Regions from separate parts of the Homo sapiens genome. Here region 2 is linked to region 1. Evidence: fine-mapped expression QTL. A gene starts in region 1. The other region holds a variant in brackets. All regions are shown on one strand. Distances are from middle to middle. Region 1 holds the start of PLA2G6 (phospholipase A2 group VI). Region 2 overlaps PLA2G6 (phospholipase A2 group VI).

Region 1 (5,370 bases):
AGGTGGGAGAATCACTCAAACCCAGGAGGCGGAGGCTGCAGTGAGCTGAGATCGCACCACTGCGCTCCAGCCTGGGCAACAGAGTGAGACCCTGTCTCAAAACCAAAACAACCAACCAACCAAAAAAAACCCCACAAAATCCCTGACATCCTGGAACTTATATTTTAGACAGAGCTACTAATAATAAAGAAGATAAACAGGTAAATATTTACAAAGGTTTTAGATGACAATTAACTACTGAGGAGAAAAACCAGAGAATGGGGATAGGAAGTGCTGAGGTGGAGAGTGAAATTTTAGATTGGGTGAGGAGAGAAGTCTTCACCAAGAAATTGATCTTAAATAAATACCTGATGGAGAGAGATGAAAGTCATATGAATAGCTAGGCAAAGAGAGCGTGTGCAAAGGCCATGGGGCTGGAACATGTTTAGCGAGTTCCAGGAAAAGCAAGGAAGCCAGTGACATCAGAGAGGCAACAGGGGGCCAGGCATGTGCCATGAGAGGAGAGGCCACTGCAAAGAAACAACATTTTAACAAGATCACTCTGGCTGGGTGTGGGGTAAGAAACAGAGAGGCATCATAGATAATCTCACAGCTTTGACCTGAGCAACTGAATGAACAATACTCCTATGTCCTAAGATGAGAAAGAGAGTGGGAGGGACATGTTTTGGTGAAGAGTGGGGTCAGGGATGGAGGGCAGAACTAACAGGAGCTCAATTCTAAACTCTTAAGTTTGAGGCCTGGCGCGGTGGCTCACACCTGTAATCCCACCACTTTGGGAGGCCAAGGCAGGTGGATCACTTGAGATCAGGAGTTCGAGACCAGCCTGGCCAACACGGTGAAACCCCGCCTCTACAAAAATACAAAAATTAGTTGGGCATGATGGCGCATGCTTGTAATCCCAGCTACTTGGGAGGCTGAGGCAGGAGAATCAGGAGGTGGAGGTTGCAGTGAGCCGAGATCGTGCCATTGCATTCCAGCCTGGGTGACAGAGTGAGACTCTGTCTCAAAAAATAAATAAATCAATAAATAAATACTTCAAGTTTGAAAAGCCTAAGTTTGAGGTGCTGAGTAAGCAACTAGATTTGAGTATGTCATTCCAGGGAAAGGTCTGGACTGGACTGGGGATATAAATTTGTGGGCTGACAGAATAGAGACGGCACTTAAAGAAATAAGACTGGATGAGATCACCATCCGAAAACGAGAAGAGGCATTTAAGACATGACCCTATCAAAATCCACTGTGAAAGACACAGAACATATTCTCCCAGGGAGCCACCCTCTACAAAGTGAAGTTTGTAACACACTCTTCACTACGGCCCCTTACTCCTTGCCTACCTACTTCCCCCAGCACACACACCCAATAGATGTCTGCAGACACACACACACACACACACACACACACACACACACACACACAGAGTATTTAAATTTCTCCTTTCTGTATCTCTTAGTGATGTCATTCTGCTGAGTAAGAGGGAAACTCCCTTTTGGGGAGTCTCTCATGTAACAAGAAAGTAATCCACGGAAGGAACAAGAAGTGTCCTAAACAGTAGCAAACCTTACACATCAGGACAATCACACAGGCTCTGGTGTCAGATTCCAGCTTCAACCTCATCGGTGTGACCTCAAGCAACTCATGCGCCCTCTTTTTCTCATGTGAAGTGAGAATATCATTGGCCACACCAAGGGTAGCCTAGAACATCAGACAGTCCGTAAATATTTGTTAGATAAACGATGACTGAATGAATGGTGAAGAGAACATATACAGAAGAGCCTGACTCACAAGAGGTGATGAACAAACACTGCCAAATGATACACTGAAAGACAAGGGACCTCCTGCTCATCCTTCTCTCCTTGTCTTCTCATTCTAGCCCTTTCCCTTTCCACTCCTTTCAATTCTGCCTATGACCCAACAGTAAAATCATGTATTTGTACAGGGCCATACTGGTTATAAAGCTTTACCTTCTACATTTTCTCATTCAAATTTTGAACCTCATGGCAGACTTACGAGGGCAGGAGGTACAGTTCCCCTGTCACAGATGAGGAAACTGAGACTTGGACAGAAAACAGGTTCCAAACTCCAGGCAGAAACTCTAACAAAAACAATGCATTCAAAAACAATGCATTCAGCCCAAGGGTGCAGCCTCAACGTTGCCAAACCGAACCTGCCTGACATCCTGTTGGGCGGGTAAGAGGCAGGTGAGGGAAAGACCCAGAAGCTAGGGGGAGGTATTCGTTGGGGTCATGTGGGTAGCCCATTAAAAATACGGCCACAGGTCCCCTTGCCCTGTGCCCTCCCTGTCCCACACCCACAGGCTTGCCCCGACCCAGTCCCATGATCACCCTGGTCACATGCTCCCTGTCACCAGCTTCCAAGTCATCTGTGGGAGCAGGAGGTGGACACAGGATTAGGGGTGGGAGACTCTGGGGTGGCCAGGCTGAGGGGAAGGAGGGAGCATGTCGGGGGCAGGTCTGGAGGCACGCGAGAGAGGAAAGGCAAGGAAAAAAAGCAGGGAGGAAAGGCAGGAGAAGCAGGGAGTGAGAAATGAGTAGAGGCACCACGAAAGGTGGAGACGGACGTGAAGTGGGGAATCAAGTGAGCACTTAGAGGAGCACAGGAAGGAAAATTAGGACGGCCAATGGGGCCTAAAGAGGCACTGAGGGTCGGGGAAAGAGAAGAGATGGATTGACTCGGGAAGTTAGGGATACTGAGGGAGACACACGGAGGAGACTGGGGTTCAGGGGAGAAACTCAGGGTCGAAGCTGGGGTCCCTGGGGTCCACAAGTTCGAGATGAGACACGGGCGGTCTCGGGATGGGAATTGGGGACGCAGGGGGATGAAAAGATGGAAGGTGGGGGCACTCAGGGAGTCACATAAGGGTTAATGGAGGACATGCCTCAGAATCGGAGACACGAGGAATATCCAAAGGAGGGTCCGGCGGAGACTTGGGAGTCCGGAGCGCCGAGGAAGTTGGGGAACGGACCCCCAGGCCCCGCCCACCCGCGAGGTCACTCACCTCGGCTTACTCAGCACTTCTACTTCCTCCTACTTCCGCAAACAAACGGGCCTCGGGCCACGTGATGGCCTGACCACCGCTCTCCGCCAATCACTGGTGGCCCTGTCCCAGGCCTCCTCTAGGCTCCGCCCCCGCGCCCGAGGACGGCGGGAGGCGGGGTCCGCCATTTTTTTTAACTGCCCAATGGAAGGGGCTCCCTTAGCCAGGAGGACGAGCTTTCGGCGGGAGCCAATCCTCGGCGGCGAGGCGCGGCCATGTTTGTGCGGGGCAGAAGGTGCCCGGCTTCTTGGCAGTCCTGTTGATGAGGGCCAGGAGTCCTACCCTAGTCCGCCTTCCGCCTCCTAAAGCGACCAGAGCCTGGAGTCTGAAGTTACTGTTAATGATTGCTCGTAAAGATAAAAATAAAGGCAACAGAGGCATAGGGCATAACAAGGAGGAACCTGTTTTGATTTTTGCCAGGTAGCCTCAAGCCAGGGTTGCCAGATGTAGCATATAAAAAATACGGGATGTTAAGTTACATTTGAATTTCAGCTAAACAGCCAATACATTTTTTTCCGATAGAACAGAAATTGATTATAGCTTTTTTATTTTTCACAACTAAGGCCAAATTCCCTAGGGGAATTACCACATGTCCTTTTTTTTTTTTTTTTTGAGACAAGTCTCGCTCTGTCGACCATGCTGGAGTGCAGTGGCACGATCTCGCTCACTGCAACCTCCGCCTCCCGGATTCAAGCGATTCTCCTGCGTCAGCCTCCCGCGTAGCTGAGATTGCAGGCGCCCGCCACTACGCCCAGCTAATTTTTTGTATTTTTAGTAGAGACGGGGTTTCACCATGTTGGCCAGGCTGGTCTCGAACTCCTGACCTCAAGTGATCTGCCCGCCTCAGCCTCCCGAAGTGCTGGGATTACAGGCGTGAGCCACCACGCCCGGCTCCGAAATTTTTAACATAAGTATAATATACTAAGTTTAGTATTGTGTTAAAAATGTGTGCATTGTTGTCTGGCAACACACCCTGAGCCAGTCTCAGGAAATACCTTAGCACTTTCAGTAGGAACTTGGGCAAATGATCTCTGTGAACCTCAGACCCATCATCCAGGAAGTGGGCACAGTAATACAAGATTGTTGTAATATCTAGAAGTAAATTGGTCCCCATTCGTGCACATAGTGGGATTTCAATAAATGGCAGTTGTTAGGGTTAATAATGCCGATAATGAGGTATTTTGCAGAGAAGCCAGGAGACTAGACTTTAGTCACACATCTGCTTCGGACTGAGCAGGTCATGTCCTCTCTTCAGCCCACTGGCTTGGTTGGACCTTTTCTTTCCCTAATAATCACCCAACCCTAGGTCTAGATGAATCTGCCAGACTGCTCTCCATTTACGTGGGAAGTATAGTTGCGGGTGTCATTCTTGTGAAAAGAAGCGTGTAGGCCGGGTGCGGTGGCTCACGCCTATAATCCCAGCAGTTTGGGAGGCTGAGGCGGGTGGATCACTTGAGGTCAGGAGTTTGAGACCAGCCTGACCAACATGGTGAAACCCCATCTCTACTAAAAATACAAATAATTAGCTGGGTGTGCTGGCCATAGTCTGTAGTCCCAGCTGCTCAGGAGGCTGAGGCAGGAGAATTGCTTGAACCCAGGAGGCAGAGGTTGCAGTGAGCCAAGATCATGCCACTGTACTCCAGCCTGGGTGACAGAGCCAGACTCTGTCTCAAAAAAAAAAAAAGTGTGTTTCCTCCTTAGTCCGTCTAAAGATATTAGTGCCTAGACAGGGCAGCCAATGCAACTTGCGCAAGGTTTAGTTAAGAATCTTCACAGGTTAATGAAATTAACCATCTTAACTAATATCTGTACAGAGCTTTACCAGTTACAAAGTGACTTCACTTCCATCATATCCTCGTGTCCCCATTTTACAGGTGAGGAAATTGTTCCTTAAAGTAAGATTTAAAATTTGCTTAAGAGTTTCAGCTTGACTGCGCACAGTGGCTCACGCCTGTAATCCCAACACTTTGGGAGGCCGAGGTGGGCAGATCACTTGAGCTCAGGAGTTCAAGACCAGCTTGTGCAACATGGAGAAACCTCGTCTTTAAAAAAAATACAAAAATTATCCAGGTGTGGTCTTGCATGCCTTTGGTCCCAGCTACTGTGCAGGGGAGGCCGGGGGGTCAAGGATGCAGTGAGCCAAGATCGCCTGCACTCCAGCCTGGGTGACAGAGCGAGACCATGTCTCAAAAAAAAAAAAAAAAAAGTTTCAGCTTGAAGTGGAGAGAAAAGGATAAAGACTCAGAATTCTCAATGAAAATATCTTGCCTCCACACCCCAAACAAGCAAAGTTAGAGCGATGGTTATCAAGGAGC
Region 2 (5,370 bases), 55 kb before region 1:
ACGGCAGCCTCAACCTTCTGAGCTCAAGTGATCCTCCCGAGTAGCTGGGACTACAGGCAGGAGCCACTGCGCCTACTCTCTGTGCATATTTTTGAGTGACGGAGGGAGTGTAGCTCAGAGGTTAGGTGACGGGAACCAAGTCATATGGATGCGGACTGGACCTGGACCCAGGTCTGCCGCCTCCTGAGTCACATGCTCTCCAGCGCGCCCTGACACGTCTCCCCACATCCTGCCTGTCCTCATTGGCCATGCCCTGGGGGAATGCCTTTGTGGTTGGTTCAGTCTGGAACCTTCCTCTGATCTTCTCATCTTCCCATCTCAGCTTGATGAAGCTGAGAGAAGCCTGCCCTGATGCCATCGAGACCCTCCCTCACAGCCCGCCTGCTGCTCCACCTGCTTCCTGGTGGAGGCTGCTTCCATTCCATTCGCAATCTTTCTTTTACTCTCTCCTGCGCTGACCTGGAAGCTCCACCAGGGCAGAAGCCGCCTCTGCTCTGGGCAGCGCTGTGTGTCAAGGGGATGCAGGAGGTGCCCAAGAGGGCTGATAAATGGAGGAGGCCCGGGTCCCACCTCTAGGGGTCTTTTCCTGGACCAGGTACCCAGCCCCACAGCAAGCCTAGAGGTGGCAGGGGAGAGACTACACTGTTGCTGGAGGCCAAAGCAAACTCCCGAAGATGCGGGGCTGGCGACAGAGATCAACCCAGAGGGCGCAGGGCTCTGTAGCTTGGAAGGCCCAAGTGGGGAGCTACCGAGGGGTCTCCTGACTCTTGCCTCAGCCCCGCTCCAGGCAGGGTTCTGAGGCTCCAGAATCTGGGGAATCTGCTTTTCCTCCCTTGGGAAATGTGGGTCCCCCCTTCAGGTGCAGCTGCCTCACCTCAGCCCCTGCACAGGTGTGTGTATGTACATGCATGTGTGTACATGTGTGTGCATGTGTGTGGGTGTCCATGTGCATGCATGCATGTGTATGTGTGCGCATGTGTATGTGTGTGCATGCACGTGTGTTTGCATGTGTGCATGTGTGTGCGTGTCCATGTGTTTGCATGTGGGCAACACATGCATGTGGGCAACCCGCAGGCATGTGCATGTGGGTGTGTGTGCGTGCATGTGTGCGTGTGTGTGTGCGTGTGCCCGCGTGCAAGAGCATGCAGGGGGCACAGGGGAGGGAATGCTGATGGGGCAGGGGAACCTCCAGGGCACACAACAGGGTAGCATGGAAGTGAGTGCGAAGTGAGAGGACCCACAGAGCTGCACGATCACTGCCTGGCCCTGGGAGTGGAGCTGCCTCTGATTCTGAGAAGAGAGCTTTCCCTGCAGAGGGCTGGCACTAGGTATAGAGTCCACAGAGAACCCAGAGAGAGCCTGCGGTAGCACAAAGGACGTGGGTTCGGAAGACCCGGCTGTGAGTTGCCACCCTGACACTCACTCCGTGTGACCTTGAGCAAGTCACTTCACCTCTCAGGGGCTCAGGTTCTGCATCTGTAAAACAAGGTTACAAATTCCTCCCTGGGAAGGCTATTAGGAACATGAGAGACTAATAAAGAATAAATGAATCAACTGCAGCAATCAAGGGAGGTGGCGACAGCACAGTGGCTGGAAACGCATTTGTCCTGGTACCTTGCCGTGCCAGCTGGCACTGAGTTCAAGCACCCGGGATTATGCCTGAAGGGCAAGGCCTGGGCGTCTTCTCTTTGCATCCTGTCACCCAGGCCCGCCTCTTACAATGGGACTAGGTATACAGCAGGTGCTGGGGAAGGCAGCCCACGCCACTATTCTGCAGTGGGAGGTGGTTAAGGAAGCCAGTAGGAGCAGTGGGAAGCAGCTGCTGAGATCTCCCCAGGGGGGACCCAGGCATCTCCCCCTCTTCTAGCCATAAGGAGATCAGGGAGGGAGGCCAGAACACTGCGCCAGCCCCACCAAGTCCAAGAAGCCTGGCACCCTGGGCTGGTCTCCAGAGCCTGCACCGCCCAGCATTAATGAACGAGCGACACAGGCTCTCCATGTTCTGTCTCTGCTGAGAACTATAAGACTAGGAGCAGAGCCACTTCGCCGGCTGTGAGGGTGCAGAGAGTAAAGCCCTGAGCCCACAACAGGGGGTGGGTGAGGGGCAGGAAAGCGCACACGTTCCCCGCTCTGCCCCCGATCTCGATCCACTTACGTCCGCTTCTCGTCCCTCATGGAGCCCAGGATGAACGCTGGCTTCCGGGCCCGTGAGATGTGCATGAGATCCTGTAGTTCTGTGAGGCACAGAGCAGGGCATGCTGTGGTCAGGTGGGTCCCCAAGCCCTGCTACCCCAGAGGTCCCTAGATCAAACCTGGGCTGTGCCTCGCCCACGGCCACGCCCTCATCCCCCCACTCCCCCTGTCATCTGTCCCTTCCCCACAGGAAGGACTCTGTCCCAGGAGAAAGCTGAGCCACAGGCCACAGGAGAGAAATGGGCTGGAGTGGAAAGGGGGGCCCACTGCTCTGGGAAGGGCTCCCCACCCTGCCCAGCCAGCTCCCAGGTTCCCCTCAATCTCTTCCTCTTGAAACCCCAAGGCATGAATACCCTTGCGTGTCCTCTTCAGACAAAGTGCTTCTTCTTGCATCGGAGCCGATGCTGCAATAACCACCTGGGGCCTAAGAATTCTTATTCCCTATTGACAGGTGAGGCTCTAAGAGGGTCC[A/G]TAATTCACCCAAGGTCATTTAGTCAAAAGGCTGAGTCAGGACGTTCCTCGGGGTTTAAGTCCATGGATGAAAGGAGACATCCCTCGTCCTGATCCCAGGTCTGGAAATCCCAGTGGCCTCCGGGATCAGGCCCACCATCCACTCTGTCCATGTCTTCCTTTGTGTCCAAGGCCTGCCTGACGTCCACCCAACTGACTAGCTGCCCCTCCTGACAAGCAGCCCAGTCCCCAGGTGCCTGGTGCAGCAGCCCGCGTGACCCCAACTCTGACAGCCCCCCACCACTGTGCAGAGTCTAGAAGCAGCAAAGCAGAACCGAGGGCTGCGAAGCGGTGTCTCCCCCTCCCCAGGGCACACGGCTCCACAGTGAACAAGGGAAGCAGAAGAGTGGCTGAGAGAGGCCGGGGACAGGGTGCAGGGGAGGGGGCGTGTGGTGTGTGCGCAGCTAAGAAGGACGGATTAGGGAGTGAGAGCTAGAGCTAATGCCGCATGGCTAGGCTCGGTGGCCTCTCCAGGCCCAGGGCGTTACCCATCTGACGCCGCACCCCAGGCCCACCATCCGGCCTGGCTTGGGTGACTGCCTGCAAAATTGAGAGATAAAGATGGGAGGTGGAGGGGGAGTTCCTGGGAGGGGAGAGAGAGGTGGAGCCAGGACTAGAAGCCACAGTCACGGTGCCTCTCCAGAGTTCCAGGCTTGGTCGGGCTACCCTGGCTGAAGGTGCTGCCGCCTCCACAGTGAAGTCTGGCTCACCAAGGACTGGCTCCTGGCTGCCCTCTGTTCAGGGGACCCCGCTCCCAAACAATGGAGGTCCCTGAGTGGGCCAGCCCACAGAAAGTCCAGAGAAGGGTCCTGTCTAGTCTGGGGATGTCTCCCTGGGCACCAAGGAATGCACCGGGGCAGATGCTGGCTGCCTGGCCACATTCAACGTCTGAAAGTCACCACGGGGCCAGGAAGGGGGCACACAGGTCTCAGGCCCAACCGAGATTCAAACAGTGTGATAGAGGTGAAGCCAGAGGGACAGGTGAAGCCAGAGGGCCCGGGCCCCCAGTCCCCCGACAGCACTCCTCACTGCCCACCCTGAACGCCCTGGGGACAGGAGGGCAGTAACAGCAGCCACCTCATGGGTGCCACTGGAAATGCCCAGGCCTGAGACTGTGTGCAGGACACATCCTCTCAGGGGCAACGGAGCATGGGACATCAGCCAGGGACACCCTAGGCCTCTGGGATCTGTGGGTTGCTGGCTGCCTAGAGGCTGACAACTCCGGCCCCATCCTCCCCGGCTTCCTTTAGTGACTTCCGTCCTAGGGATCCTGTTGCTTTGGTGGGGCCTGCTGTGATCCAGGGGCCTGGGAACCAGCTGGAGAAGAGGGAGTCGGGAGGCGAGGCCTACCTAGGTTGTTTAGGCTGATCGGTGGGGGCTGAGCTCTTTCCAGGGAGAAGGGATGATGTGGCGCTGCAGAGCCCTGCTCCGCGGGGACCCCGTGGATGGGTGGGAAGCAGTATTCGGCCCCCACGGTTCTCAGCAGAGTCAAGATCGCCTTCCTGGTGACAACTTGTCATGGTTTGGGGAAGGGGAGATGGCACAGGATCAGAAATGATGTCAACATGCAAAGGAGAGGCCCCTCCTTTCCACACTCCGTCCCCTGTCCCAGCTCCCAGGCCCTGGGCACGTGGGCTGCTCCAGAGGCCTCAGCCCACCCTGACAGGGAGTGCTGCCCCCAGGCTGGTACATCCCAAGCAGCTTCCTAAGGCCAGGGAAGGAGGATATGGGAGGAGGAGGTCAGTGTCACCCTGCCCGATGCCTGTGGGAACCCCTTCTTTCCTTCTACTCCAGCCAAGAAAGCAGGAATCCCATGGCCACATTCAGTGATTCTCAAAAATGCTAAGTGATAGTTCAGGGTTCCAAAGGGACTAATGAGCCAGCCAGGGGGCACCTACTCCATTTGATGGATGGGATTGCTGAAAAGGAGGTCATAGATGCGGTGCATGCAGACACACACGTGTGCACTGGCACACACACACTGCTGCCATCAGGTACCTGCCCACAGTGACCCCCACAGCTGCTGAAACCCTCCAGAGCGGGCTCCAGGCCTCTGGTGAGGAGGATCTGCTCTGTCCAGCTCTGAAGCTAAGGCTCACTGTGCGAGCGTGCAGCACATGGCCATGCACTCTGCCCACACAGGCATGCCCAGAGCTCGTGCAGTGTAGTGCATGCACCCTTGGTCATTCTAGCCAGTGGTTCCATCAGTGAATTCCCCAACGGTGGGGAAAGAAGGCTGCTGCTGGCTCTCCTGTCCCCACCCCTGCTGGGAATCTTAGCTCCCTGAGGTGGGGGGCGCTGCACGGGAGAGGATGCTGGTATAGCAAGCCCCGTGGTGGGCCTGCATCTACTGCTCAGGGCCCTTGTGCTTGGGTAAGGAAGCCCCCTCTCTGAGTACGAGGTGCTCCTGGCAGCTCTGAGCAGGGCGGGTCAGCACAGGATGCTGGCACCTGATGCCTGGGACTTCCCTCCTCCTCGGTCCCTGTATCCACCCAACCCTCACCCCACTCCAGCCCCAGAGTGCAGAGCACATACGTCTGCCGATTTTGGAGGCTAGGAATGTAGGAGTCTCCCCAAAGTCATTCGGGGTGTCCACTTCTGCTCCGAACACGATGAGGGCCTTGATCATCTCCACGTTGTCTTTCTGTTGGAGATGGAGAGAGGATA

Evidence for each region.
Region 2: its variant is fine-mapped to the expression of PLA2G6 in tibial nerve (GTEx, PIP 0.91).

What each region holds. Positions count from the first base shown.
Region 1 is chr22:38,178,768-38,184,137 of GRCh38, forward strand. PLA2G6 (phospholipase A2 group VI) reads right to left here and starts at 3,063. Exons shown (of 17, transcript NM_003560.4): 1 at 2,897-3,063. RefSeq lists enhancers at 1,466-1,635, 1,916-1,985, 2,616-3,065, 3,015-3,309, 3,226-3,335.
Region 2 is chr22:38,124,216-38,129,585 of GRCh38, forward strand. It overlaps PLA2G6 (phospholipase A2 group VI), which reads right to left. Exons shown (of 17, transcript NM_003560.4): 8 at 5,239-5,347; 9 at 4,054-4,215; 10 at 2,156-2,234. Among named protein-coding and RNA genes, the nearest start is that of BAIAP2L2, 16 kb to the left of the region's middle. The variant A/G (reference allele first, on the strand shown) is at 2,665.